Homo sapiens: one gene and its partners. The protein of the gene in region 3 interacts with the protein of the main gene of each other region in a biochemical or structural test. Each region holds a gene or a part of one and is shown on either strand. Other genes may lie near its edges. The genes, in order: NCKAP1, WASF1, NYAP2 and CYFIP1.

Evidence for each region.
Region 1: the proteins of NYAP2 (region 3) and NCKAP1 form a complex in vitro, tested with the Homo sapiens proteins (one study listed by BioGRID).
Region 2: the proteins of NYAP2 (region 3) and WASF1 form a complex in vitro, tested with the Homo sapiens proteins (one study listed by BioGRID).
Region 4: the proteins of NYAP2 (region 3) and CYFIP1 form a complex in vitro, tested with the Homo sapiens proteins (one study listed by BioGRID).

Annotation. Positions count from the first base shown.
Region 1 is NC_000002.12:182,951,435-182,958,461, reverse strand, and holds part of NCKAP1 (nck-associated protein 1), read left to right. Parts: intron 1-865; coding exon 866-1,005; intron 1,006-1,868; coding exon 1,869-2,000; intron 2,001-5,130; coding exon 5,131-5,349; intron 5,350-5,538; coding exon 5,539-5,669; intron 5,670-5,959; coding exon 5,960-6,057; intron 6,058-7,027. UniProt on the Homo sapiens protein: Part of the WAVE complex that regulates lamellipodia formation. The WAVE complex regulates actin filament reorganization via its interaction with the Arp2/3 complex. Actin remodeling activity is regulated by RAC1.
Region 2 is NC_000006.12:110,120,663-110,127,689, reverse strand, and holds part of WASF1 (actin-binding protein WASF1), read left to right. Parts: intron 1-60; 5' UTR 61-88; coding exon 89-221; intron 222-7,027.
Region 3 is NC_000002.12:225,507,695-225,514,721, reverse strand, and holds part of NYAP2 (neuronal tyrosine-phosphorylated phosphoinositide-3-kinase adapter 2), read right to left. Parts: intron 1,352-7,027; coding exon 1,050-1,351; intron 1-1,049.
Region 4 is NC_000015.10:22,942,348-22,949,374, reverse strand, and holds part of CYFIP1 (cytoplasmic FMR1-interacting protein 1), read left to right. Parts: intron 1-1,345; exon of another isoform or gene 1,346-1,464; intron 1,465-2,056; exon of another isoform or gene 2,057-2,083; coding exon of another isoform or gene 2,084-2,089; coding exon 2,090-2,206; intron 2,207-2,282; coding exon 2,283-2,372; intron 2,373-4,435; coding exon 4,436-4,513; intron 4,514-4,715; coding exon 4,716-4,817; intron 4,818-6,020; coding exon 6,021-6,202; intron 6,203-7,027. UniProt on the Homo sapiens protein: Component of the CYFIP1-EIF4E-FMR1 complex which binds to the mRNA cap and mediates translational repression. In the CYFIP1-EIF4E-FMR1 complex this subunit is an adapter between EIF4E and FMR1.

The DNA of each region.
Region 1 (7,027 bases), about 43 Mb from region 3:
AGAAAATTACCTCTTCATGGCCAGGCATGGTGGCTCACGCTTGTAATCCCAGCACTTTGGGAGGCCGAGGCAGGTGGATCTCCTGAGGTCAGGAGTTCGAGACCAGCCTGGCCAACATGGCGAAACCCCATCTCTACTAAAAATATACAAATAAAATTAGCTGGGTGTGGTGGCAGTCGACTGTAGTCCCAGCAGCTCAGGAGGCTGAGGCAGGAGAACCCAGGAGGCAGAGGTTGCAGTGAGCTGAGATTGTGCCATTGCATTCCAGCCTGGGCAACAAGAGTGAAACTCCTTCTCAAAAGAAAAGAAAAGAAAAGAAAATGTCTCCTCATGCTGTGGCTATTTTAAAAAATTGTCGCTGTCTTTTTGCCTGCAGTTTACAATCCAACCTCTAGCTTGGCATTCAAGGCCCTTCCTAATAGTTGAAACCTCTGTACTTTACCTTACACGTTATGCTCCACCACATAGTAGTTCTAACTACAGCTCTGAACCATCATATCTTTACACAGTTTTTTTCCAAAGGCCATTTAATCCTTCCAGTGAAATATTCTTTTTCATTCCTTGCTTGCCTGGTATGTTTTTACTTGTCTTTTTAATAGTAATTTAAATAAGCGTCTATGAATTTACTCTATGACGTGTTTCTTCACACAAGATTTACCCAAGATCTACCCGTTTCTGTTTTCACCAAGCTATGTGCATTACCCAAGCTAGCTAAGTAAGCTCTGTATCTCACTTATATTTCTGTCTTTTAATATTGTTGTGATATTTGCAACACAGCCTGGATTCAGCTACTGTTTGCTTGAATAGTTAGTATGCTTTCAGAGTAATTGGTGTAATGTAAGATTTCATTCTTTTCTAAATTTAGTTGCTACCCAAGCATTGTGCCAAAACTATCAGTCAAGCAGTGAATAAGAAATCAAAAAAGCAGACTGGTAAGAAAGGGGAACCTGAAAGGGAGAAACCAGGTGTTGAGAGCATGAGGAAAAACAGGCTGGTTGTGACCAAGTAAGTATCCACTTATATTATACCTTTTTGCTCCAGGTAAAATATTTATTTCATTTTTTTCTATTGACATTAGTACTGAGGAAATGCTAATAATTGTATATTCTTCATTTTCCAGCCATTTTAAAAAATATTTCTGAGCTTAATTAACCTGTTAGTTGCTTATTTCATCTCAAAATACAGATTTTGGCCTTTAGAAGAAAATATATGTAATAGTTGATATTTGTCTTTTTATACTAAGTACTGAAGGCCAATTATATGTTTAAAAAATTTTGTGTGTTACATTATAAGCAATCTGTAATTTTTAATTTATTTAAAGTTAGATAGTGGAGACTTTATTTTGGCATGTTTTTGATATATTAGAACATACCCAATGTCATTATTATAAAACAGAAATAACAGACCAGGTAGCATTCAGGGATCTTTGCTTGCTTCATTGTTTGGAGGGGAGGTGTAGGTGGGTAATAATTCGGTAAATATTTTTTGTTTAAAGTATAGTTCCTACTTTCTTGCTAAATTGAGCAAGCCATTGCCCTTTTATAGACAACTTTCCTTCTCTCATAACAGAAAGTACTTCAGGAATTGGGCGTGATTATCTTTATGAGTGCAGAATAAGCTCTACCTTTGTATATTAAGTCAGTATATTCATTACTACCTAAAGGTAGAAACAAATGACGCCATCTTTAGAATATTGCTCTTATGTGTTAGTTATAACCTTAAAGATTTTGAACTTTCTCAGTTTAGGAGAATAAAAAGTCGAATTCTCTAAGCATTATCTCCAAATAAGGTTGATATATTTATAAAATTAATTTTGTATTGCCTGTGATGACATGTGAACATTTTAACTGTTTATTAATTTTTTTCAGCCTTGATAAATTGCACACTGCACTTTCTGAGTTATGCTTCTCTATAAATTATGTACCAAACATGGTGGTATGGGAACATACCTTTACCCCACGAGAATATTTGACTTCTCATCTGGAAATACGCTTTACCAAGTAAGAAAGAATATTGACTGTTTTTGTTTGTTGACTCAGTAATGAGTTTGTTATTTAATTATACAGTGTTTTATAAGGAAAAGCATTAGTAGAACTGGATTAGTGTTAAGAATAATGAACCGGGCCGGGCGTGGTGGCTCACGCCTATAATCCCAGCACTTTGGGAGGCCGAGGTGGGCAGATCACGAGGTCAGGAGATCGAGACCATCCTGGCTAACACAGTGAAACCCCGTCTCTACTAAAAATACAAAAAATTAGCTGGGCGTGGTGGTGGGCACCTGTAGTCCCAGCTACTCGGGAGGCTGAGGCAAGATAATGGCGTGAACCCGGGAGACACACTTGCAGTGAGCCAAGATCATGCCACTGCACTCCAGCCTGGGTGACAGAACAAGACTCTGTCTCAAGAATAATGAACTGGGAAATGCAAAGAATAGTGAACTGAAAATTACTGAAGATACCCAGATTCTTTTCTCATACCTATTAGTATTAACTAGTAACACCAGGCAAACCAGTTAATATCTCTGAGTCATAGCTTCCTTATATACAAAGTGAGAATATTGGAGCAAATCAATGTATTTCATCTTGCAGGTGGCAACCCAGTAGGTTCATGAAATCAGTTTATTAGGTTGTAGTCAAAGTTTAGAGAAAAGTGGGAGGGAAAGAAAGGACAAGAGGAAGAAAAAATAGGAAAAAAAACCCAGTACACTGTGTGCATTAAATATATATATTGCTTCGTGAAATGTTTCAGTTACATGTATGCATGTGTATTGACTTGCAGTGTTAAGATGCGTGTCATGCAGTAGGTCACAGTAAAATGTTTGAAGACCTGAGGACTAGATGAACCCTTACATGTTTTCTGAATTCACATGTTGCTGTTAAATAAGCCAATAGAATTCTAGATTCTTGAATTCTCAATTCTAATTAGAATTTCCTGTTATATATGAATATATATTTTATGTATGTATATGAAATAGTGCATTGATAAGTCAGAAACCTTTCAACTTTATATATATTGTTTTAACCTTTTTCTGAAGTTACATCCTTATTTATTAATATTTATTCATGAAAATTTTTATTTATTTGACAATTTTTTTCTTCAAAGCCTTGAAGCAATTTATAAAACAAAATTTTGCCAAAAGGTTTTCAAAGTTTCTGTAGTCATTAACAGGTGGTGTTTGTATTTGCACTATATGCTTAACAATGTGTTAAGTACTCTAGGTAATAATGAGATAAAGATAGAACTGTAGCTGGTGAGATGACTAAAAGAATTAGAGAACAGAATATGACAGTATATAAAGTGGCACTAAGTTGAGTGTTAAATTATCAGTTGACTTGAGAAGAGTCTGGTGATGAACTGTCTTTTGTTCTCCTTAGTAAGTCAGGCATCCTGACAGTAAAACCCAGAATGCCCTAGAACTTAGACCAAAGGGGCATTGTGCCTTGTGGTGTTTATTATTCTCAAGTGGGTTAGAGGTGGGACATTGGTGGGTGGAAGGGAGAGTTCAGTGTACAGCTCCCTTGTTTTCCTTGTAAACAGTCTGCTTTGTTAATCCACAGAGAAGCAGTTTTTTTTTTAACCAAACATCTACTTAGTGATTAGGATCAAGGCAAGGGGAACAGCTTGTTTACCTTGGAAAGATTTTTTATTTTATTTAATTTATTTATTTATTTATTTTGAGACGGAGTTTTGTTCTTTCGTCCAGGCTGGAGTGCAGTGGCACAATCTCAGCTCACTGCAACCTCCATCTCCCAAGTTCAAGCAATTCTCCTGCCTCAGCCTCCCGAGTAGCTGGGACTACAGGCGTGTGCCACTGTGCCTGGTTAATTTTTGTATTTTTAGTAGAGACGGGGTTTCGCCATATTGGCCAGCCAGATAGCTTGTGAATATTAGTGGGTTGGTTTTTGTCAATCAACTGAGCACAGTCTTAGGACTTAGGGATTATACACTAGGATAGCAGTTTTCATCTTGCGTTGGCTCTTCTTGGCCTGTTTCTAGTGATGGGATTTGTCGGTTGTCTTTTAAGGATTCATCCTTACAAATACAAGTCTAAGATCTTTACAGATCTAATGCTCAGGGAGTTTTAAAGAAAGTGAAATAGGGGTGGTCAGTGTAGGATAAGATCATTTAGGGAAGTATTTTCAAAATTTGTGTTTCCTTTTTAGTCGTATACAGTTTCTTGAGATATAAACAGAACTGTTTTATATGCTATGAGTGATTAAAGAAAATAAAGTTGTTTGTTGCCTTATTTTGTTTGACTGTCATACAGTTTGTTTAGAGGCAGCACTAAGTCAGGCAGATCTGCGGTCAAATCCTAGTCATAACCACTTCCCAACAAAACCTTATCAATTTATGTGAGTCCTGAGCTTTATTTTTTTCCTCTGGGAGATATAGTGATAAGTACATTGTAGGTGTTTATTAAATGTGAGGATTGTAGGTAATTTATATAAAGCCTCAAAAACTACTGGCACCTAACAGTGTCAAATAAATTCAAGCTGTAGACTAAATAGTTCACTGTCCTTGCTACAAACAACTTACCATGTTAAAGCAATTTGTAAAACCCTCTTTATACTTAAATCACTTTTGTTACTGGTATACTTAGAATGTTTTTAATCATTTTATTCACATTTCGTTGTAGTTTTTAAGTTTTCTTTTTTCTTTTTTTTTTAAGACAGTCTCACTCTGTTGCCCAGGCTGGAGTGCAGTGGTGCAATCTCAGCTCACTGCAACCTCTGCCTGCTGGGTTCAAGCGATTCTCCTGTCTCAACCTCCCAAGTAGCCAGGATTACAGGCATGTGCCAGGCCCAGCTAATTTTTGTATTTTTAGTGGAGACAAGGATTCACCATGTTGGCCAGGATGGTCTCGAACTCCTGACTTCAAGTCATCTGCCCGCCTCGTCCTCCCAAAATGCTGGGATTACAATAGGCGTGAACCACCATGCCCGGCCTTCATTCTTTTTTTACGCTGTTTCCTGGGAAGATAATGACAGTAATTTTACAGCTTTGTAATAAATTATTTTTAAAGTTAATTTTATTGCTTGTTTAATATTAGATAACAGTAGGTTGAGTGGTTTATTTTACATGAATGGAAAAGTCAGAGGCTTTTCTTATTCTTCTATCCCTTCTTCCCAGGTCAATTGTTGGGATGACTATGTATAATCAAGCCACACAGGAAATTGCAAAACCTTCAGAACTTCTAACAAGTGTAAGAGCATACATGACCGTACTCCAGTCAATAGAAAACTATGTGCAGATTGATATTACAAGAGTATTTAATAATGTGCTTCTTCAACAAACACAACATTTAGACAGTCATGGAGAGCCAACCATTACAAGTCTATACACAAATTGGTAAGGAATGCATTTAGAAATTTGTAGTAGCGGAAAATTTGTAATGAAGTACTTAGGAAAATTAATTTTTTTGTGAATAAGTACTTATTCATATTATCAGTCAACTTAAAATTATATGCAGGAATGTATATCATGATACATTCTGAATTAAGCAGTTTCTTCCGGTTATAAGTTTACGTTTCTCCTTAGGTATTTGGAAACTTTGTTACGACAAGTCAGCAATGGCCATATAGCATATTTTCCTGCAATGAAAGCGTTTGTGAACTTACCTACAGAAAATGAATTAACATTCAATGCAGAGGAATATTCTGACATATCAGGTGAATAGTACTATACCACAGTTTAGAGAATGAAGAACACTTAATTCTTTTGCTAGTGTCTTGATTCTTTAGACTTTTGATTCTGTTGTGACTATTTCATTCAATTATATGCGTAACTGCATATTGTATCTTAGAATTACTTTTGCATTTTGTATTCTCTCTTTCACTCTAGAGACTTTTATCAGGATTTTACATTAGTTTTTATAATGAGATGTTGTATTGTGTTAATGTTCATTTTCTTAAAGTATTTGCTCTGTCGGAAGTATAAAATTAAGTATGTTTTCTTTCAGAAATGAGGTCATTATCAGAACTACTAGGCCCATATGGTATGAAGTTTCTAAGTGAAAGCCTTATGTGGCATATTTCATCACAAGTTGCTGAACTTAAGGTAATATAGTCTTTATTAATTTTAGCTTTTAAACATTAATTCCTGAAAAACATTTCAGGGATATGAGCAACAAGCCTACAATGTTAATTATTTTAATCCAACATGAAAGTACTAATATGAAAATGAAAATTAAATAGCTAGCAAGGCCTTTTTATGGCATCTTAGTTTAGTTTTCTCTATTTTGTAGGTGAGAAAATGGAAAGCGAAAATAGGTGAATTGACTTGGTAAAGGGGACAGAACCTCAGAGTCTTTGGCTTGTGGTCAGGCCTTCATAGTATTGAATCATGATGTTTTCTTTGAAATACCAGCTTCAAAATTCCAGCCAAAGTTAACAATTTGTTCACACTTGCGGTTTGAATGTATTTGCTTTCCATAGATTATAATACAAAAATTACTGGGCTTATTGCTTTTTCTTAGGTAATCTTTTAAATTATCTTATGCCCTCTAAGTTGAATGAAAAATGCCTTCAGAATGCTTAATGTTTCAGTAAAGATGTAAAGGAACTGAAGCAACAACATTTTAAATACCTTTTTATTAGCCTTTTAGAAATATCCTACAGCTACGGTGATTTATATTAAACGAATCTGTATATATAATAACTATGTAGTTTTTGAAAGAATTTGAACTTGGGCCACCAAAACTTTTGAACTTACAAGCAGAATAGAGAAATCATGTTTTAAAATAAACATTTTCTTCGTAAAAGCTTTTTGGTGGTTACTTGAGTCTTGATATTTTAGTTTTTGTTTGTTTGTTTTTTTTTTTTTTTTGAGATGGAGTCTCACTGTGTTGCCCAGGCTGCAGTACAGTGGCACAATCTCAACTCACTGCAACTTCCACCTCCGAAGTAGCTGGGACTACAGGCACGCACCACCAAGCCTGGCTTATTTTTGTATTTTTAGTAGAGACGGTGTTTCACCGTGTTGGCCAGGCTGGTCTCGAACTCCTGACCTCAAGAGATCCACCCACCTC
Region 2 (7,027 bases), on a different chromosome or scaffold from region 3:
AAGTCTCATTCTGTGTTGGCTGAAATTTAATATTGTTAATTTATTTTTGATTTCCTACAGGTGAACTGGCACAAAGGTTAATCTCAAGATGCCGCTAGTGAAAAGAAACATCGATCCTAGGCACTTGTGCCACACAGCACTGCCTAGAGGCATTAAGAATGAACTGGAATGTGTAACCAATATTTCCTTGGCAAATATAATTAGACAACTAAGTAGCCTAAGTAAGTATATATCAATTAAAAATATACTCACAAACCAGAATGTTATGCTTTAGCGTATTAAGAAGTTGTGCTTCTGATTAATTTGGGAGTATGATTTGGTGAGAAGAGTACAAAATTATCCTGAAAAATATAGTCACATGAGTATAATTATTGAGTTTTACAAGAACCTCTTCTGCATGATGTTTCTTCTGGGAAAGGAAAATACGGACAGAATCTCTAGGAACAGAAACACATGATGAATGAAAATTATTGAGATTGTTTTAAAAATATATAATCTGCGAAAGGACCAGAGTTGTACTTTTCCTTGGTTATTATCACTATTTACTCTGTTTAGAGGCCTCAACTATTTGTGTTTTCAAACACTAGTATCCCTCTCTTTATATATATATTTAATTAGTTTAGGGAAATATTTTTATATTAGCAAAGATCTAAGGTGAGAGGTATGGGGTCATTATTAGTCAGAGGGGTAGGCTAGTCAAGTGGGATGTCTAAGAGACATTAGGATATAAGTCAGGAATCTGATATGCAGCATTGTGTGAAAACAGCAAATGAACTTGGCCTCTGGCAGACAGAAGTCAAGCAGGTTGGCCAGAGAATAAAGGCCAGTGAAAGAGGCAGATTAGGGAGAAGGAGACAGGCAATATGTTCTCATTGCAGATTTACAGAATAGAGCAACTTGGTTAAGGAATTAAACAAATTATTTTCTATTCTAAGTTTATTTAGAAAATTTAAAAAATCTGGTCTGTCTTTTGCATTGAAGGATTAGCTTTTTCATAAGACATTGATATTTCATTTTAAAGGTGAAACAAGGTGTTCTTGGCAGAGATAATATCCACCAAGTGGTCCTAGATTTATCTCATCAGCCATATAAATTCTCCTGATAAGCAGGCTTGGCTTTTCTTTTCTTTTCCTTTTAACTTTTGTCCTTTCTTTTATAATTGAGTACTTAGCACAAGAGGTTGTTAATCTAATTTGTTTCCGGTAAGAAAGTTTAGGCATACCTGTAGCGAGAGCAACATAAAAAGTTACATTTGAATATTCTCTGTGAGAGTACTAAATTTTTGCATTGCCTGTGAAATAGTAAGAATAAATAAAAGGCTATTTTATTTGAATTTTAAGTATATTCCTTGTTCCATTCAGTGGTCATTTTTTTCAGGTTAGTGAATCACTAAAATATTGTATTGTTTACTTGAGGCTAATAAAAAAAGTGTTAGAGTTCCCAGTTTAAATATGATTAACTATATTGTTTAAAGATATTTTGCAGATTTTTTGTGACCTAGCACGGATTGAATCAAGTATAACATGATGTCATATAAAATTTGTTTTATATATGTTATGTACATACATAAGTATATAAGCATGCTAATATTAAAATACATGTTAAGAACATAGAAATGGCATTAGTAATTTTGTATAACATATTTCTTAAAATGAATTGTGGATCCAGTACAGGCATCTTATTTTAGGTATATACCCAATATAGAATTTAGAACTAATATTGTGATTAAGGGTGATAATTTGCAGTACTAACCCATTTGTTACAAAACTTAAAGATGAAAATTTAAGGAATTTTTAAGTCTATATAGTCCATATAAGCAACATCTATCAGCAGGCACATGGTTATGCTGTAGCGAAACTCTGAAAATTATAAATACCTTGTAACAATATAACTAAATTAGGTGTTGGGTGCTTCACATTTAGAATCAGAGACCTGGAAGGCATTGTTTAAGCAGTTTGTAGAGATTCAAAAACAAAGAGAAAACCCATAAAATATTCTAGCAAGGTGTGACAATAGCTTACTGCCCTGAAATTAACTTCTCTGGCAGCTTTCCCACTTGACATAGTTGAGAACCTGGAATTAAATTTAAAAGGCCTCTAGATAGCCAGAATAAATAAACTCATGCACTAAAGACCATGCACATAAAATAACCAATTGATCCCTCTCTCAAAACCTGTTTACTTTTACCTTGATAGTTCAAACAGATTTGATGATGTGGTTTCCAAACAGTTATGCTTCAGAGGATAAAAGGAGGAAGCATGGGAGGAGATACTAGAAGGAGGCATCACTGAACCCAACCAAAAGGAGGTAGTTCACAGGAAAGGACAAAGTGATGTAAGGGAAGATGCAACATAAAAACTGGAAAGAAGCCATTTAATGTAAAGCAAATATCCTTATACATTTCAAGGCTGTTTTCTGGCCTAGGATAATATTTGATTTTCATAATTCATGCCCGTGAGTCCCTAAGAAAAAATTAAATTATGTTTAATTTTATATTCCATTTAAGAAGAGGGAAGCTTAGAATACATTTCACAAGTTTCCATCGAAAATAGTTAAAATAACAATTGATGTATTAGATAATAAAATCTGAATTACTTAGAAAACTTGGCTATCCAAAATGTTTCTAGATAATGGAGATTTTCACTTTGGTGCTATTATTAGTACTGAAAGTGCTTGAGAATATAGCAATGAAAGTAAACTGCAGGGATCCACATGGCTCAGGGCTGGATATCTTCCTGACCTTTTCCTCACAAAAATGTACTTCCTTTTTTTATTTTTTTGAAACAGAGTCTTGCTCTGTCACCCAGGCTGGAGTGCAGTGGTGCGATCTTGGCTCACTACAAACTCCACCTCCCAGGTTCAAGCAATTCTTGTACCTCAGCCACCAAAGCCGCTGGGATTACAGGCGAGTGCCATCATGCCTGGCTAATTTTTGTATTATTTTTAGTAGAAATGGGGTTTTGCCATGTTGGCCAGGCTGGCCTTGAACTTCTGGCCTCAAGTGATCCACCCGCCTCGGCCTCCCAAAGTGCTGGGATTACAGGTGTGAGCCACCATACCCAGCCAGTACATCTGTTTTTTGTGAGATTTTTCCTAGTAGAACATAATTCTGTTTTGTATTAGGTAATTACCACAAACCTATAATTCACTTTATATCAATTTCCTCTTTCTCATTTTATTGCTTTCTTAATGATGCAAGGTTTTTTACTCCTTAGCTGAGCTAGGTCCAGGTTCTTGTCTCACGATGAGGAAGAATTAGGCACACAGATACTCTAAGAGTGAATGGAGTAGAATTTATTAAGTGAAAGGAAAGCTCTCAGCCAAGAGAGGGGTCCTGAAAGCAGGTTCCAGGTTGCCCCGTCACAGTTGAATACAAGGGCATATATATATATATATATATATATATATATATATAGAGAGAGAGAGAGAGAGAGAGAGAGAGAGAGAGAGAGAGGAGAGAGAGGAGAGAGAGGAGAGAGAGAGAGAGAGAGAGAGAGACGCTGATGGGGCTGGGTTCCCTATTTGTATGAGGCACAGATTACTGGTGGCTTCACCACATTTCCCTAGTGCACATGCAGGCCCTTAGTCTGCTGTGGGCATGTTTAAGCAAGCCCCCTGTGCAAGTTCCCTTATCTGCACAAAGCATCTGGTGTAAGCCCTTGTGGGGTGGGTCAGAGGTTCTCTGGGGACCCTTCCCTTACTGTCTGCCTAAAGCAAGCTAGCTAACTCCTTTCATTAACAACCACTGGGATTCTGAATACCTAAGGGATCTCTTCCCCTGGCTTTTCTCTTATGGAATATAGTCAGTTCTTATTGCCAAGATTAGTCTTTTCCATCTCTGTATCTACACCTAGCATTTGTATCCCTACCAATTGTTGAATAAATGAGTAACTTTATACCTGCTTTTTCTTCCATTTGGGATGCTTCCCTTATCTGCCAGAGAAACTGTCTCTGGAAGTATCTTGATCACCAAATAACTTTTGACACCTGAAAGTGAGGTGCTTCTATCTCTGCTGTGTTGCTCTTACCTTATATTAAGAGCTGCCTGTTATTGGGCTCCTCTGTATGAGGTGCACTTCAAGGCTCTTTTCTTGCTTCTTTTAGAGACAGATGTTTTTATTCCTATTTTACAGATAAGGAAATTGATACCAAGGTCTCACAGTGAATAGAACAAATATTAGGACTTATCTATTAAATTGCTTTAAATATTTGCTTAAATGTCTGGTTCTCCCTCTGCTCAAAATTCAGTAATGGCAGGGATCTTCTTCAAGTTATTTTGGCTTACTCTTTTCAGTAATAAGAACTTACACAACTAGAGGAATACAGTGATTTTAGATTTATGATTTTTTTTTTTCAGAAGTTGTAACAAGAGGGTGTAAAAGATCTCCTAAATTTCTGAATCTATATCTTGGGCATCCCTGGGACAGATAATCTTCTAGGTCTTTGATGAATCTTGGGTTCTGCTACTTGGCCTAAAATTTATTTCTAGCTAATATAAATGCTGATTATATATAAATGCTGATTATATATAAATGCTACAGTCTACATATAAATGCTTTCAGATTGACAGGCATATTATTTGCATATACCTTTACATCATAATCTTCTCTAACCCTCATCAGGTGGACAGATATAGATAAAGCAAGTAATTTCCATTTTAGACACAAATCATTTAACAGAAAGTAGTAGAACAAGGTTTAAAAGCAGGCTTCCCAGGGTATCTCTTTTTTTTTCCCCACTTTGTCATGGCTGGGTGACTTTAGATAGGGTTTAAAGTTTAAAATACAGTTGGCCCTTGAACAGTGTAGGGGTAAGGGGCACAGATCCTCAGTGAAGCCAGAAATTTGCATATAACTTTTGACTCCCCCAAAACTTAACTGCCTATAGCCTACTATTGACCAGAAGCCTTACCGAGAACATAAACTGTTGCTTAACATGTATATTTTATGTTGTATGTGTAGTAGTATACTGTATTCCTACAATAAGGTAAGCTAGAGAAAAGAATATGTTATTAAGAAAACCATAAGAAAAAATATACTTACTGTTCATTAATTGGAAGTGGATCATCATAAAAGTCTTCATCCTCGTTATCTTCACATTGAGCAGACCAAAGAGGAGAAGGAAAAGGAGGAGTTTGTCTTGCTGTCTCAGGAGTAGCAGAGGCAGAGAGGTGGAGGAGGTAGAAGTAGTAGAGGTGGGCACACTGGTGTAACTTTACAAAAACACATCTTGATTTCTGACTTTTTTGCTTCTTCATTTCTCTAAAAATGTTTTTATATGGTACCAATCCTCCTTTTATTTGCTTTAGTTTTGGTACTGTATCATAGAAGGGTTCACGTTGTAAAATAAATCAAAAGTAGTCTTGAATAATTGGAACGCTTTTGCCAGATTCTCTAATGTCAATTTGTTTTCTGACACCACTTCTTCTATGTCTTCTTTTTTTTTTTTTTGGATTCCATTTTTTAAAATCGGAGATCTGCTTCTTTACTTTCTTTCTTATTTATTATGATACTTTAAGTTCTATGGTACATGTGCATAGTGTGCAGGTTTGTTACATAGGTATACATGTGCCATGGTGGTTTGCTGCACCCATCAACTCGTCATTTACATTAGGTATTTTTTCCTAATGCTATCCCTCCCCCAGCCCCCGACCCTCCGACAGACCCGGGTATGTGATGTTCCCCACCATGTGTCCATGTGTTCATGTTGTTCAATTCCCACCTAGGAGTGAGAACATCTGGTGTTTGGTTTTCCAACCTTGTGATAGTTTTTTTAGAATGATGGTTTCCAGCTTTATACATGTCCCTGCAAAGGACATGAACTCATCCTTTTTTATGGCTACATAGTATTCCATGGTGTATATGTACCACATTTTCTTAATCCAGTCTATCATTGATGGACATTTGGGTTGGTTCCAAGTCTTTACTATTGTAAATAGTGCCACAATAAACATACATGTGCATTTGTCTTTATAGTAGCATGATTTATAATCCTTTGGGTATGTACCCAGTAATGGGATCGCTGGATCAAATGGTATTTCTAGTTCTAGATCCTTGAGGAATTGCCACACTGTCTTCCACAATGGTTGAACTGACTTACACTCTCACCAATAGTGTAAAAGTGTTCCTATTTCTCCACATCCTCTCCAGCATCTGTTGTTTCCTGACTTTTTAATGATCACCATTCTAACTGGCATGAGATGGTATCTCCTTGTGGTTTTGATTTGCATTTCTCTGATGACCAGGGATGATGAGCATTTTTTCATATGTCTGTTGGCTGTGTAAATGTCTTCTTTTGGGAAGTGCCTGTTCATATCCTTTGTCCACTTTTTGATCGGGTTGTTTTTTTTCTTATAAATTTGTTTAAGTTCTTTGTAGATTCTGGATATTAAGCCTTTGTCAGATGGGTAGATTGCAAGGATTTTCTCCCATTCTGTAGGTTGCCTGTTCACTCTGATGGTAGTTGCTTTTGCTGTGCAGAGGCTCTTTAGTTTATTTAGATCCCATGTGTCTATTTTGGCTTTCTTGCCATTGCTTTTGGTGTTTTAGTCATGAAGTGTTTGCCCATGCCTATGTCCTGAATGGTATTGCCTAGGTTTTCTTCTAGGGTTTTTATGGTGTTAGGTCTTACATTTAAATCTTTAATCCATCTTGAGTTAATTTTTGTATACGGTGTAAAGAAGGGATCTAGTTTCAGCTTTCTTCATATGGCTAGCCAGTTTTCCCAGCACCATTTATTAAATAGGGAATCCTTTCCCCATTTCTTGTTTTTGTCAGGTTTGTCAAAGATCAGATGGTTGTAGATGTGTGGTGTTATTTCTGAGGGCTCTGTTCTGTTCCATTGGTCTATATCTCTGTTTTGGTACCAGTACCATGCTGTTTTGGTTACTGTAGCCTTGTAGTGTAGTTTGAAGTCATGTAGCGTGATGCCTCCAGCTTTGTTCTTTTGGCTTAGGATTGTCTTGGCTATGCAGGCTCTTTTTTTGTTCCATATGAACTTTAAAGTAGTTTTTTCCAATTCTGTGAAG
Region 3 (7,027 bases):
TGTAAAGATCTCAATGTGCCTGTGCAATGAGCTGAATGTTTGTGCTCCCCAAATTAGAATGTTGAAAACTTAATCCCATAATGATTGTATGTGGAGGTAGAAAGGGAAGGAGAGCAGTGCTTTCAGGAATAGGATTAGCATCCTCCTACGAAGAGGCCAGGGAGGCCTTTCTGCCCTTTGAGGATACAAGGAGAAGTCGGCAGTCTGCAACCAGGAAGTGGGCCCCAACAGAGCTCTCAGGCTTCCAGCCTCCAGAACTGTGAGAAATAAATTGCTGTTGCTTATATGCCACCCAGGCTATGGTGTTTTGTTATAGCAGCCCCAAATGACCAAGATAGCTTGTGTCAAGGCACACTTAAGGCTACTTTCCCACCATGGAATTCTCAGGAGTAACTCAGGGAAGCTGAGACTCTACTAAATTCAGTAAGGCCTAAAGAGCTGGTGAGATCTAGTGTTAATATGACCTAATTTATATTCATAGACCAGCAAGGAGGCTGGGATATATTTGACTTGTATGTTTCATAGCTGAGAAAAAACACAGGCAGATAAAGGTAAAAATTGGAGATATTAAGGAGAGTTTAAGATTATAGTATGCACACACATACACACATAAATACATAAATTCATATTCATTGGAAGGAAATTCACCAAAACATTAAAAATGATTATAAGCTTTTTCTTGATATTTTCCTGAATTAAAATGTCCCCTTGATAATCAAATAATAATACCTTTAATTGTATAAATAGTATAAGAAAATATAACTTTTAGATATATTTCTGGGCAGAATAATTTTTGAATAATTTGAAGCTTTAAAGGATTAAAAAACTCATATATTGCCTACCCTTTCTGAACTATCAGAAATACATTCTTCTGGAAATTTGACAACACATCAATAAATAACCTTCCCCTCAATTCTTCTTTTCTGGGACTTCAGGGTGAGAGGCAGGATTATGTGGCCCAGTGAAGAAGGCACTTGCCCCTGGGCATGCTGACCTGAACATACTATCTGAAAGAGATTTCTAGGTGACATGGACATGGCGTGTTTTACCTTCAGTCCTCTCAGGGGTTTTCCCGCTCTTACTGGCTGCAGTGCTGCTGACTGTCTCTGATGAGGTGCTCAGCTTGGTGCTGGGGTCCCTCTTGGGTTTGGGTGGTGGTTGTCTCCGTGAGCCACAGCTGCTGTCATCGTCTGTGCCCCCAACCGAGTGCAGGGACTGTGATCTCACAGAAAAGCCACTGGAGCAAGGATGGGGAAGTCTGTCCTGAGGAGCAGGCATTGTCATGAATCCCATGCGGAAATGTTTGCCCACGTAACTTCCTTCGTGGCCTCGCCCTACTTCTCCACCTATGCTGTAAAAGAAAGCAGACCAAAAACCATGAAGACAAAAGGAGCCAGGATATACAAGATCATACATGTGAGAATATTACTAATAGGGAAAATTTCAAATCTTCATTTTAGTCCGGTGAAATGCTGCCTTTTAAAACAAACTCAAGTAGCATGAAAGCATTCTAACTTTTGTGTTAAATTTTGTTTTCCCCAAAGGAAAGAAAAAATACTGCATAGAACACTTATCTTCAATCACTTTATATTTACTTTAGGTAAATCTTATCAGTGGCTTAAAATGTAAACAAGAATTCCATGACTATGACTCAGATTCATTTTGACGTGCAATTCAGTCCTAGTGGTCAGCACTTGAGACTCTTGTCCACTTCATCAAAACCATTCCTGCTTTTATCTGCTTAATATATTGGAGAAAATGAAACAAAAAACAATAATAAATGTTCTGTTACGAAAGAAAGAAAGAAAAAGAAAGGAAAGGAAAGGAAGGAAGGAAGGAAGGAAGGAAGGAAGGAAGGAAGGAAGGAAGAAAGAAAGAAAGAAAGAGAGAGAGAGAGAGAGAAAGAAAGAAAAGAAAGAGAGGGAGGGAGGGAAAGAGGGAAAAAGAGAAAAAGAGAAAGAAAGAAGAAAGAAAAACGAAAAAAGGAAGGAAGAGAAAGAAAGAAAAGAAAAAAGAAAAAGCAAAGCAAGACAAGCAAAGCAAGACAAGCAAAGAAAGATGGGAGGAAGGGAGGGAGGAAGGAAGGAAGGAGAAAAAGTAAAAAGCAAAGGAGAGGAAGGGAAAGGAAAGGGGAAGGCAGGAAAGGAAAGGAAGGAGGGAAGAAGGAAGGAAGGAGGGAAGGAAAAAGAGAAGAGAAGAAGAAAGGAGGAAAGGCAGGGAGGGAAGGAGGAAGGAAGGAGGAAGAAAGGAGGGAGGGAGGAGAAAATATTTGCTTAAATTGGTGAAGGTATTGCCAACCACTCTCAATCCTCCAGAATCTTCAGTTACATTAGAAACAGTCCTACTAAGAAATCAGACACACAAAATAAAACAGCAACATTGAGTAAAGAAGTGCAGCTTAAATATCGTTTGATCCTGAGATGATTCTAATACTTCATAAATATTCAGTGTATGCAAAGTTTCCAAATTTAAGGTTCTTAAGTTTTACATAGGAAAGTTTGAACAAAAATATTAAAATATAAGAAATCCCCTCTAATTTTGGAACTCAAGCAATTATTTAGGAAATGACTCTTGGGCCTCTGTCTATGCTATTAAGTAATAGTGACTCCTTTATGAAAAGAAGGGACACAAATGTGAATGTAAACTTTTAAAAGGAAGATTTTTCTAGAGTTTCTTTTTATCTATGAAGTTCATTCACCAAGAGTAAACACAATTTTTTAAAAATACCATTACAAAATTTTTGACTAATTTTCTTAGATATGTTTGAATGGTAAGAAGTACCTCTGAGTATATGAAGTTTGGAAGCTTGCTGAGTCTACCTTCCCAGACATGTAAGTTTATTCAGATCTTCATTTAGTAAAACTAATTTTGGCTGGCTCTGCCTTCATAATATGATGGAATTTTATATCTTTCATATCGTTACAATGTTTGTTATGATTTTAACATTCCAGTAGGAACAATAATGAAAAATGAGATTTTCTTTTCCTCCTTCAACTGGGGACTTATGACAATTACATGTCCTTTGGGGATACAGACAAGAAGAATTTAACAAGAACATTAGATTCTTGATTCTGACCTTTAACACCAATGATAACTTGCCACTCAACCCAAAATATTTTATATGTATTTTTTTCTGAATATTTTCAACTGATACTCAGACACTAAGCACGGAGTACCATCTTTGCAATAAAGGTGGCTGGAATTTCAGTGCACTAAAAATCAACAGTATCCAGAAGCATGAATGGAGTCCAAGTGATGGCTAAGGGGCAGTGTTGACATCATAGCCGAAAGTATCCTAAGTCAGTGCAGTGTTTTTATGTGTTTTATCCTCTCTCTCTCTCTCTCTCTGTGTGTGTGTGTGTGTGTGTGTGTGTGTGTGTGTGTGTGTGTGTGTTTTAAAGAACGGCAATTAAGACATACATTAGAAGCTTATCCAAACAGAGTGGTTTGTGAAAAATGAAGAATATGAGAAAGGATGGGATAGTGGACGTGAGGGGCAGTCTTGGTATAGGAAGGTCTGTCTTCAGTTTGTGATGGTTGTGGTTTTGATCTTTCTCATAGATGATATACTTGATGTAATCTAACTTTGCTTTCAATTATTTTTCATCCTAATGTCTTTTGTTCATTTCTGTTTCATCACAGCACAAAAGGTGCTTTAAGGATTTATTTAGCCAGTCATCCCATTTCTGGTAACACAGCCAGCTGGGGAAATTTATGCATGTGTTAATGCACATGGGCATTTATGAGTTACTAAAAATAATTCTATCAGCAATTTCTCAGTTACTTTTGACCTAAATGGAGCCTGAACTTTTTCCCGGACTGACAATTTAGTCTGCTTCATTTCAGAATTATCTTTTTTAACAGCATACAACAACTTAATCTAACTCTATCTGCTTTGGTTCATATATGCCTTTTACACACACACACACACACACACACACAAACACATTAACATTTCTTTCAAGAGAAATTCAATGCATGCTTCAAGCACTAGCAGGTACCACTGCAAGTTTAGTTTGACCAGGCTGTAAATACAAGATGAAGAAATAGGACAAAAACAAATTTGGATGCGAAGACCATTGTTCAAGTCAAGGCTAGGGACAAACAGTAAAGGTGATGGCACATCTAGGTTCAAGAGACCCAGAAAGGTTATTAGCCCAAAACAAATTGAAGATTGTGAAATGCAGCATACAACTAGTTTCTGAATTTGCTAGGAACATGTGGAGTTTTTTAAATATACAGATTCCCAGACTCCATATGAAGGGCAATGATTGAATCATACCTGTTGAATCAGAATCTCTGTGGGTGTAGAAGATGAATTTGTGTTTTTAAAACTATATCCAGATGTTTCTGATGTAGCTAATCCAGAACCCCCCCAGAAATATTAAGAACAATAGTTAGGGCCATTAATGAGTAGATATATCAATTAGAAGCAATCAGGAAGAGGTAAATACTAAGCAAAATATCACGAATGAGAAAACATACAACCTATTAGCCAAATCTTATTAGGTTATCCTGCAGTAACAAACAATCCCCAATCCCTAATGTTTTTTAATGATATAGGTTTGTTTCTTGCTTGTATGAATGCACATCAACTGTGGCTCTGTTTCACATATATTCTTCACCCCAGGATGTAGCCCCATTGGGACTTTTTCTCCTGGCAGAGAAGGAAAAACACCAACTAACTTATATGTCTCTCCTGGCTTCTGCTCAGATGTGGCTTATAATCTTTCCATCACTCTCCACTGACTAAAACCAATCTTATGGTCAAGCTTGAGGTCAGTGGCCTGGGGACTTATTCTCCTCCAATAAATACTGCAAGTCATATGGCAATATATGGGGATGCATATTCCTTGTACAGGTAGGAGATCAAATACCTGGCAGCTGTGATGGTATGCAACTGAGATCTCTTAAGAGAGCACTTGCCATGAGGAATGAAGTTAATTGACGAGACAACAATGAACCATTGAGCACTTTATGTTTCCGATCCCTATAACTCTGGACTCTACAGAGTTAAAAGGTCCAGGTCCCCAAAGAGGCACACTCTTTCTAGAAGACACAGGAAGTGTCCCATTGAACAACAACTTATAGCTGCCCCTTCAGCAATTTGAACACCCCTTGTGTAGTGGGTAACGGGCAACAAGAAGCTGATCATGGTGGTGTGCACCTGTTTCCCAGACACTCTGGAGACTGAGGTGGGAGGTTTGCTTGAGCCCAGGAGTTCAGGGCTGCAGTGGGCTATGATCATGCCACTGCACCACTCCAGCCTGGGCAACAAAGAAAGACCCTAGCTCTAAAACAAAGAAACAAACAAAACAGAAGTGTCATTGCCATTGTGGAAGATATCCCTGATCCTGGTCAGCAGGAGGTAAGGCTGATTTTATGCAATGGGGCAGAGAGAAGTATGTGTGAAACCAAGGTTATCCACTTGGGTGCCTCTTGATACTGTCTTGGCCAAATGTGACTTTGAAAGGTCATACGCAGCAACCCTGGCCCAGAAAGGTTATGGTTACTAAGGACTCCAACTTCTCACGAATGAGAGATTAGTCTCTCCACCAAGTAAGCCACTGAGACAAGTGGAAGTGTTTCCTGAAGGTGGGGTGAATTTAGGATGAATGATGGAGGAGGGAGATGACGAGAACCAGTCGTAGCTCCCATACAAACTGCGGTGATGAGGGCTATAGTTTATCTCACTAACTGCACCCTTCCAAGTTTCCCCTCAAGAAGAGCCAGAAGAGAGCTAGGAGAGAACTGTTCCCAAAGCCTGCAGGAGAAGGACATCAGCTGAGTCTAGGGAGTGAACTGTGGCAGCCATGGAGGTGTGTGGCTCAGAAGTCCCTCAACAGAGAACCTCCTCTGAGGATAGCAGTCAGCTGCCAGCTGCCGTCTTCCAAATCTGGTGCAGCATTTTAGTTGAGGCTATGTTGTCCATGGGCAGCTCCTAGACAATGGATGAGCACAATGAGGTATTACACCTGATTACTTCTTCCCAGATTCAGGCAACCTTTATGGCTGGCTTTCCCTGTTGCACTGGTCAAGACCTTCCTTCTCATCACTGCATCACAGTCTGATGATCTTCCTATTCAATTGCTTTTCCTCCCCCTCTCCTTCTACAGGTGCTAGACCTGCATTGTGATCTCAGACTTGTCCTACCTCTTCTGCTTCCTCCTTCTTTATCTCTCACAGGCATTCTTCCCAATAAACCTCCCAGACTTCTAACTCTGTCATGGTGTCTGCTTCCTGGGAGACCTGAACTGACATACTTGGGAACAATTCCTCCGGCATTCAGAAACCAAAGAAGCAGGGAAAGAGAAGGCATCACGACAAATGGAAGACCCCAGAAATAAGGAATGCCTGTGAAAATAGGTCATTCTCCTGCTTCAGACTGAGCATTTAAATGAGGCTTGAGGAGTTAGAAGCTAACTTCACTATAGGAATATTTGGCTGGAAGTGAAAGTTATGTGGGCTAAAGAAAGAGTCTTGTTGCAATAAGACTCCAACACTCAAGATAGATTAAGCCTGACACATCTCATGTTATAAAAATAAAAACAAGTTTCATAATCCTGAATTTAAACAAGTATGCTTTTTCTCATATAATGAAGGCAATGTTGTGAGATCTACTTGTCTGTTGGTTAGTTATTCCATTACAAAACACAAAGTGTAAAATATTATCTAAATCAAGGAGGGTTATTTTTCCAGAAGTAATTGATGCAATGTTTGTAAATATCTCCACCAAACAAATTATTGGCTAGTAGACAGGCCTGGACATTTGTGCACTGGAATCATGGAGTTATAGACTATCCCAGAGCCATTATTTAGCAGCTGTATAACATTAGCTACTGAATCCCTGGGGCCATTTCCTTAGCTGTTTAATAGCGGCATTGGCCCCGTCAAACTGGTATCAAATTTACCTGATATACTGCATATGAAGCATTTAGCAGTCTGATATATAAAATGCAGTCAATAATTTTAGCCATAAAATTCCTACATTTAAGTCTTTTCCCACTGAATTTTGCTTATAGGATAG
Region 4 (7,027 bases), on a different chromosome or scaffold from region 3:
GAAGACACGTTCCCATCTTGAGGGAGGATCCCAAGTTGGCACCTCCCCGCTTTAGGCTTAGGCGCATTGTGCCCGCCTTCCGGCCCGCCTGGTCCCCGCTTTAGGCTTAGGCACATTGTGCCCGCCCTCCGGCCTGCCTGGTCCCCGGGGGGAATCCGCGGCCCTCCCACTGTTGCTCTGTGCTCTGCTGAGCGTCATTTCTCCTGCTGTTTTCAAGATCTGTTTTCCTTTATCTTTAGTGTTCAGCAGTTTGACCGTGATGTGTCTGGGTGTGGATTTCTTGTTTGTCTTGTTTGGGATCCATAGAGCTTCTTGAATCTGTAGACAAAAGACTTTCTCCAAATTTAGGGTGTTTTCTGTCATTTTTTTCAGCTGTTTTTCATCACTGCTTGGTTTCCCCTTTTCCTTTTGCACTCTCATGGCACAGATGTTAGACCTTCTCTCTTGTCCTGAAGATCCCCAAAATTTTTTCAATCTTTTTTTCTCTCTGGTATTCAGATTAGAAAACTTAACATTGCTCTATCTTCAAGTTCACTGAATCTTTCCTGAGGTTTTTTTTTTTTTTTACATTTCAGTAGTGTGTCTTTTAGTTTTGAAATTTCCATTTGGTTCTTCTTTATATCTTGTTTTGTTTGCCTTTTGCTGATTTCCATTTTTTCATTCAGTTTGGGAGTGTTACAATCGTTAGAGCATTTCATAGCACAGTAGTTGCTTTAAAGTCGGGTGGATAATTGCAGCACCTGTGTTATTTTGGCATCTGTTGATTCTCTTTTCCTGTAGGAGCCCATACGTTCCTCGTTCTTTGTGTGCTGAGTAATCTGGGCTGTAAGTGGATGGTTGGATGTTATGATATGAGATCTGGGTCTTGTTAAAATCCTAGGAGGATGTTGATATTTTTATTTTAGAAAGCAAACACCCTGAGGAGACTTGGGCTGTGGTTCTGACTTGCCTTCAGTGGGTGGCAGCTCCATGTCAATTCTGGCTTCACAGCCTCCTGCACTGCCACTTGGACCTGCCCCCTGTGTGCCGCTGGTGGCTGTCTGGCTGTGGTCTCAGGGTTTGGGGTGTGAAGAGGATCAGATCCACACCCCTGCAGCTTGAGGATGGGCTTGAAGCTCATGAGCAATTTTGTCGGCTGGCTCTTCTGAGCTGCTTCCTCTCCACACTGCCACTGGGGCTTCCTGGGTCCCTGGAGAGCTTCCCTTCTCCACCCTCAGCCAGTGCAGTGGGACTGACTACCCGTTCCACTGTGCACCTCCATGCCTGCGCCAGTGCTGGAGGAGGGATTTGGGGCTCCTTCTGTTCAGTGTCTCCTCCAGGCCACCTGCTGCTCTTTCCTTCATAGAATGTGGCTCAGCTGCCCCTGGTCCCATCCCAGGGCAGAGCTCCTCCTGAGTACCCTTGAGACTGGAGCAGATTCAGCAGAAGGCAGATTGCCCCCTCTCCCTGGAGCTGGCTCTGAAGGTGTGTTTAGACGATGTCTGCCTTCATTTCTGCACCTCTGCTCCAGCTGCGGTGTGGCACTTTCTGTCCCCTGCGGCAGCCCCATACTCCTTGCAATCTCAGCCTGTCTGTGCAGCTAGACAGCTGGTGTTGGGCGGCAGGGCGCTCGTCTTTTCCATGTCAGGCCCTAGTGTGTTTGGAGGCACCACCTGGGAGGTGGCTGCATTTAGGGAGGCTCTGCTGGGCAGATGTGGCATTGGAGAGGTGCTGCCCCTCCAGCACTTTGAGGGGGTCGTCAGACCCTCGAGAGAGTCCTCAGCACCAGCAACTCAGGACGGCGGCCCCCATGGTGGGAAGGATGGCAGGAACCATGTGCCCCATACTGTGACCCTCCTGGAGGCCAGGAGAGCCTGTTCTCAGCGAGTGTGGAAGGATAAGCTGCACAGGGCCTCCCAGCCTGCTGGCCCACGTGCCCTGAGAGAGACACGCAACTCCCAAGGACTGATCATGCCCCTGTCAGCCATGTCCGGTGCCCTCGGGAGAGCGGGAAGGGGTTAGAGGCCTGGGTACCCAACCTCGAAGCTTGTTGGGTGTCCCCTCCTTCTCCTCACAGAACAGGGGTCCTTATGTGTTGTTCCAGCCCAGGATGGCGGCCCAGGTGACTCTGGAGGACGCGCTGTCCAACGTGGACCTCCTGGAGGAGCTGCCCCTGCCCGACCAGCAGCCCTGCATCGAGCCCCCGCCATCCTCGCTGCTCTACCAGGTGGGTGCCCAGCAGCTGCAGGGCGTACAGCCTGTGCTCCGACCCCACATGATGTTTTTCTCTTCCTTTCCTTCAGCCAAATTTCAACACTAACTTTGAAGACAGAAATGCATTTGTTACTGGCATCGCAAGATACATTGAACAAGCCACCGTCCACTCTAGCATGGTAATGTTGCGGTGTGTCTTTGTTTCTCTCTGCAGAGAAGGGCGTGTTTGAAGGACAGATGTATACTTTTTGGTATTATCCCAATAGACTATGCAGTGAGGAAAAAGAGAAGAAAATGAATGAAATGCCTTATATTTTTAAGACAGTCTTTGCTTTTCTTAGTGTAAAAACAATACATGCTGGTTCTGAAAATTCAATGTCTCTGGCCCAGAGAAAACCTTTGTCAGCGTTTCAAGGGTGCACCTGCCCTGTTAATGCTCATTCCCTCTCCAGATCTGCACCCACACACACCAGGTATGTGCCCATATGAGATTTAGATTTATAAATGAATTGCATTGTTATTATAGTTCTGCTTTTTTTTTGAGACAGAGTCTTGCTCTGCCACCCAGGCTGGAGTACAGTGGCGCGATCTTGGTTCACTGCAACCTCCGCCTCCCAGGTTCAAGCAGTTCTTGTGCCTCAGCCTCCCGAGTAGCTGGGACTACTGGCGCCCACCACTACGCCCAGCTAATTTGTGCATTTTTAGTAGAGACAGGGTTTCACCATGTTGGTCGGGCTGGTCTCGAATTCCTGACCTCAAGTGATCTGCCCACCTTAGCCTCCCAAAGTGCTGGGATTACAGGCATGAGCCACCACACCTAGCTAGTTCTGCATTTTAATGGTCTCATCAACAGGTTTTCTTTCTTTCTTTTTTTTTTTTGAGATGGTCTCACTCAGGTTGCCCAGGCTAGAGTGCAGTGGTGTGATTAGGGCTCACTGCAGCCTCAACCTCCCGGGTTCAAGCAATCCTCCCACCTCTGCCTCCTGAGTAGCTGGGACTACAGGCACACACCACCATGCCCATCTACTTTTTTGTGTTTTTTGTAGAGGCGAGGTCTCACCATGTTGCCCAGGTTGGTCTTGAATTCCTGGACTCAAGGAATCCGCCTGCCCAGCCTCCCAAAGTACTGGGATTACAGCCTGAGCCACTGCACCTGGACAAGAATATTTTCATGCCATGAAAATGTGCTAGAGAAAGCAATCCTTAATGGCTACGTAAACCATTTTGTAAATGTCCACAATTCAACTATTTTTGCGCATTGACTTCCTCTTTTATGTCGTGTAATAAAAAAATGCTGTAGGCTGGGCGCAGTGGCCCACGCCTGTAATCCCAGCATTTTGGGAGGCCAAAGTGGGCGGATCACCTAGGGTCAGGAGTTCGAGACCAGCCTGGCCAACATGGTGAAACCCTGTCTCTACAAAAAAAAAAAAATACAAAAATTAACCAGGCATGGTGGTGCGCACACCTGTAATCCCAGCTACTCAGGAGGCTGAGGCAAGAGAATTGCTTGAACCCGGGAGGCAGAGGTTGCAGTGAGCTGAGATCGTGCCACTGCACTCCAGCCTGGGGGACAGAGCAAGACTCGTCTCAAAAAAAAAAAAAAATACTGTGATGAACGTCTCACTAAATAAAGGCTAGATTTAAGAGCATCTATTTGATTTTTTCCAAAGGAAACGATGTTAAAGAGTGGAAAGCAAAAGCAGTTTTACAGCAGTGATGACAGTCCTCTTCCCATGGACTCTCTACCTAGATTTTAAGTGCTGTGGGCGTGCTCCTAACTTTTCCTCCTGCACACCCGGGGCTGGCAGCCCTGCCTCTAGTCCTCTCTGGGACCGGGAGGCCCTGTGAGCCAGTGAGGAGGCCATGGGGATCCTGTGTGTGCTCACACCGGGCAGGGCGTCTGCCCTGAGCCCTTCCTCTGTGTTCCTAACTGCAGGTCTCATGGCCAGCAGGTTGTTGAGGGCTGGGTGGAGCCAAGGTGTAACGCCTGTGGCACCCCTCAGAGATGCCTGCGTGTCACTGACACCCCTCTCGCCTGCAGAAGCCATGGGGTGTTTTGGGTGGTCATTGTGGCCCCCAGCGCCGCACCTCAGTGTCACTAGCTTCTGGCAGCCGTCTCTTGGCACACAGGCCACAGTGCTTAGGATAGTTTGTGGCGCTTTGTCTGGATTTTAGCAACTGGCATCTGCTTTTCATGCTAGTTCCCCCGCCTGCCTTTGATTTGCCCTGTGTTCCATTGCAGAACGAGATGCTGGAGGAGGGCCAAGAATATGCTGTCATGCTGTACACCTGGAGGAGCTGCTCCCGGGCCATCCCACAGGTGCCACGCTCGCCTGGCTCTTCCCCTCCAGCCACACCCTGCCAGGCCCCTGCCACACCACACCCCTGCCCCTGCCATGCCTGGCCCACTCTCCTCCCAGTTCTCACCCCACAGCAGGGCGGGATCACTAGCTCTAGAAGCCCAGCGGCTGCTTCTGGCTGGATCAAAGCCTCTTATGTCATCCTTGTTCCTTTATTCCCAGGTGAAATGTAACGAGCAGCCTAACAGAGTGGAAATCTACGAGAAAACCGTGGAGGTTCTGGAGCCTGAGGTCACAAAACTGATGAATTTCATGTACTTCCAGGTAAAATGGCAAATAATCTGGGGGGGGTGTAACACCGAGGGGTGGGTTGCTGACCCCTTCCTACCCATCACTGTCACTGTGAACACCCTGAACAGAGTGCCTGCAAATTAAAGCAACCAGTTTCTGAGACAAAAGGGACCAAGCCTTTGACAGTCTAAAGTTCCTCATGCCCTTTCGGAATCAACGCTCCTTTTGTGGTTCACTTCTCTTCTCTGAGAGTGATTTTATGTTTCCTTCATGGAGCCTGCTTTCTGTCAGTTTCAAGTACAATGCTTTGACTTTTTGCCAGTTTGTACTTTTTTTTTTTTTTTTTTTTTTTGAGACAGAGTCTTGCTTTGTCGCCCTGGCTAGAGTGCAATGGCATGATCTCGGCTCACTGCAACCTCTGCCTCCCAGGTTCAAGCGATTCTCCTGCCTCAGCTTCCTGAGTAGCTGGGATTACAGGTGCCCGCCACCACGCCCAGCTAATTTTTGTATTTTTAGTGGAGACAGGGTTTCACCATGTTGGCCAAGCTGGTTTTGAACTCCTGACCTCAGATGATCTGCCCATCTTGGCCTCCCAAAATGCTGAGATTACAGGTGTGAGCCACCACGCCTGGCCAATTTGTACTTTTGTTTTCGTCTGCTCTTTCAGGTATTTTCTTGCTGTTAGCCTCACCCTGACTGTCCATTCCTGGTGGTCCTCGCCCTGGCCTTGGTTAGGCAAGAAGTAGCCACATGGAAGGGGCTTGCTGCTTTTTAAAGAAGTATTTTGGAAACATCCAGATTTTTTATGATGATGTCCTTCAGCAAAGGGAGGAGATGGAACTAACTGGGAGATGAATTTTTGTTTTACCTTGAAAGTTACCAAGAGGAAAAAAATCTCTCCCAGTTTTCACTTCTGAAAGTTAGAACATCTGAATTTTACAGGCGTTTTATTGGAGCATTTTGCTCAGTAATTTTGCTGGAATAATCAGCAAGATTTTGTTACTTTAGTGATGTAGTTGGTAAAGTGCAAGTCAAGTAATGATGGTGCAGAGCAGGCAGTGGGAGCTGCTTTCAGGAAGGGGTCTGGTTGCCCACATTGTAAACACTTCGGCCTGGAGCCTCACTGGGCAGATCGTTTCTCATCGAGGAGCAGTGACTGCAGGTGCTTGAAGGAGGGACATGGGCTTGGCTCCTCACTGACCTGCAGCTTTCTGCCCTCCTGCTTCCTCTGCACAGAGAAATGCCATTGAGCGTTTCTGCGGGGAAGTGAGGCGCCTGTGCCATGCCGAGAGGAGGAAGGACTTCGTGTCAGAAGCCTACCTGATCACACTGGGCAAATTCATCAACATGTTCGCTGTGCTGGACGAGCTGAAGAACATGAAGTGCAGTGTGAAGAACGACCACTCAGCGTACAAGAGGTGAGCACCCACCTCGCGCACTGCGGGCCCTCCCGAGAGCACCCAGCTCAGTGGCCTGCCTTGTGCACAGCAGGTGTGCGTCTTTGTTTGCTGAAGTCGTCACTTCTGGTAGGCAGCAGCTACGTCTCAGTGTCAGGGCTGTGTGAGCACCTGCTTCGAGGGATAAGGTGAGGGGAGCCAGCAGATAAGTGCATATCGTGGCTTTGCACAGCTAGAGCAGGCTCTTCGTGCCCTGGCTGTCCTCAGATGTCACAGAGGACCTTCGAGCCCCTGGGAAGACAGACATGCACAAGATGTAGGCCTAGCTCACAGAGCACAGGCATCTGGCTCAGGGAGCATCTTGGCAAGGGGGCAGGTGGCCTCTGCAGCCTACCTTGGGCGTTGGGGCTGCAGTCCTCGGTGCCGGTCACTCGCCAGCGGGGGTCCCCAGCACATGAGCACCATCCCAGCAATGTGCAGACGTGGCCCGTGCACAGTCACAGGGTGTCTCGTGGTCACACTGCGCTTCCAGATCCTCTCCCTGGTGGTTTTCTTTCTGGATGTAGAGAGCTTCTGGAGAAGCTAGCCTCTGGAGAGGCTGGCAAGACGAGCGGAAGAGGCAGGCATGGCCCAGTGTGTGCTTCTGGAGCAGTGTGGGGCAGTGGGTGGCCGATGGGCATTTGGTGACACTCGGCGCGCTGCCGACCGGCGTTCGGTGACACTTGGCACGCTGCCGACCGGCGTTTGGTGACACTTGGCACGCTGTCTCCTGATGCTCTTGCTCTGCTTCATCTGTGCTCAGTGCTTTTGAAGACATGTTTTGCTGGAATGAGATGCTAATTTCAA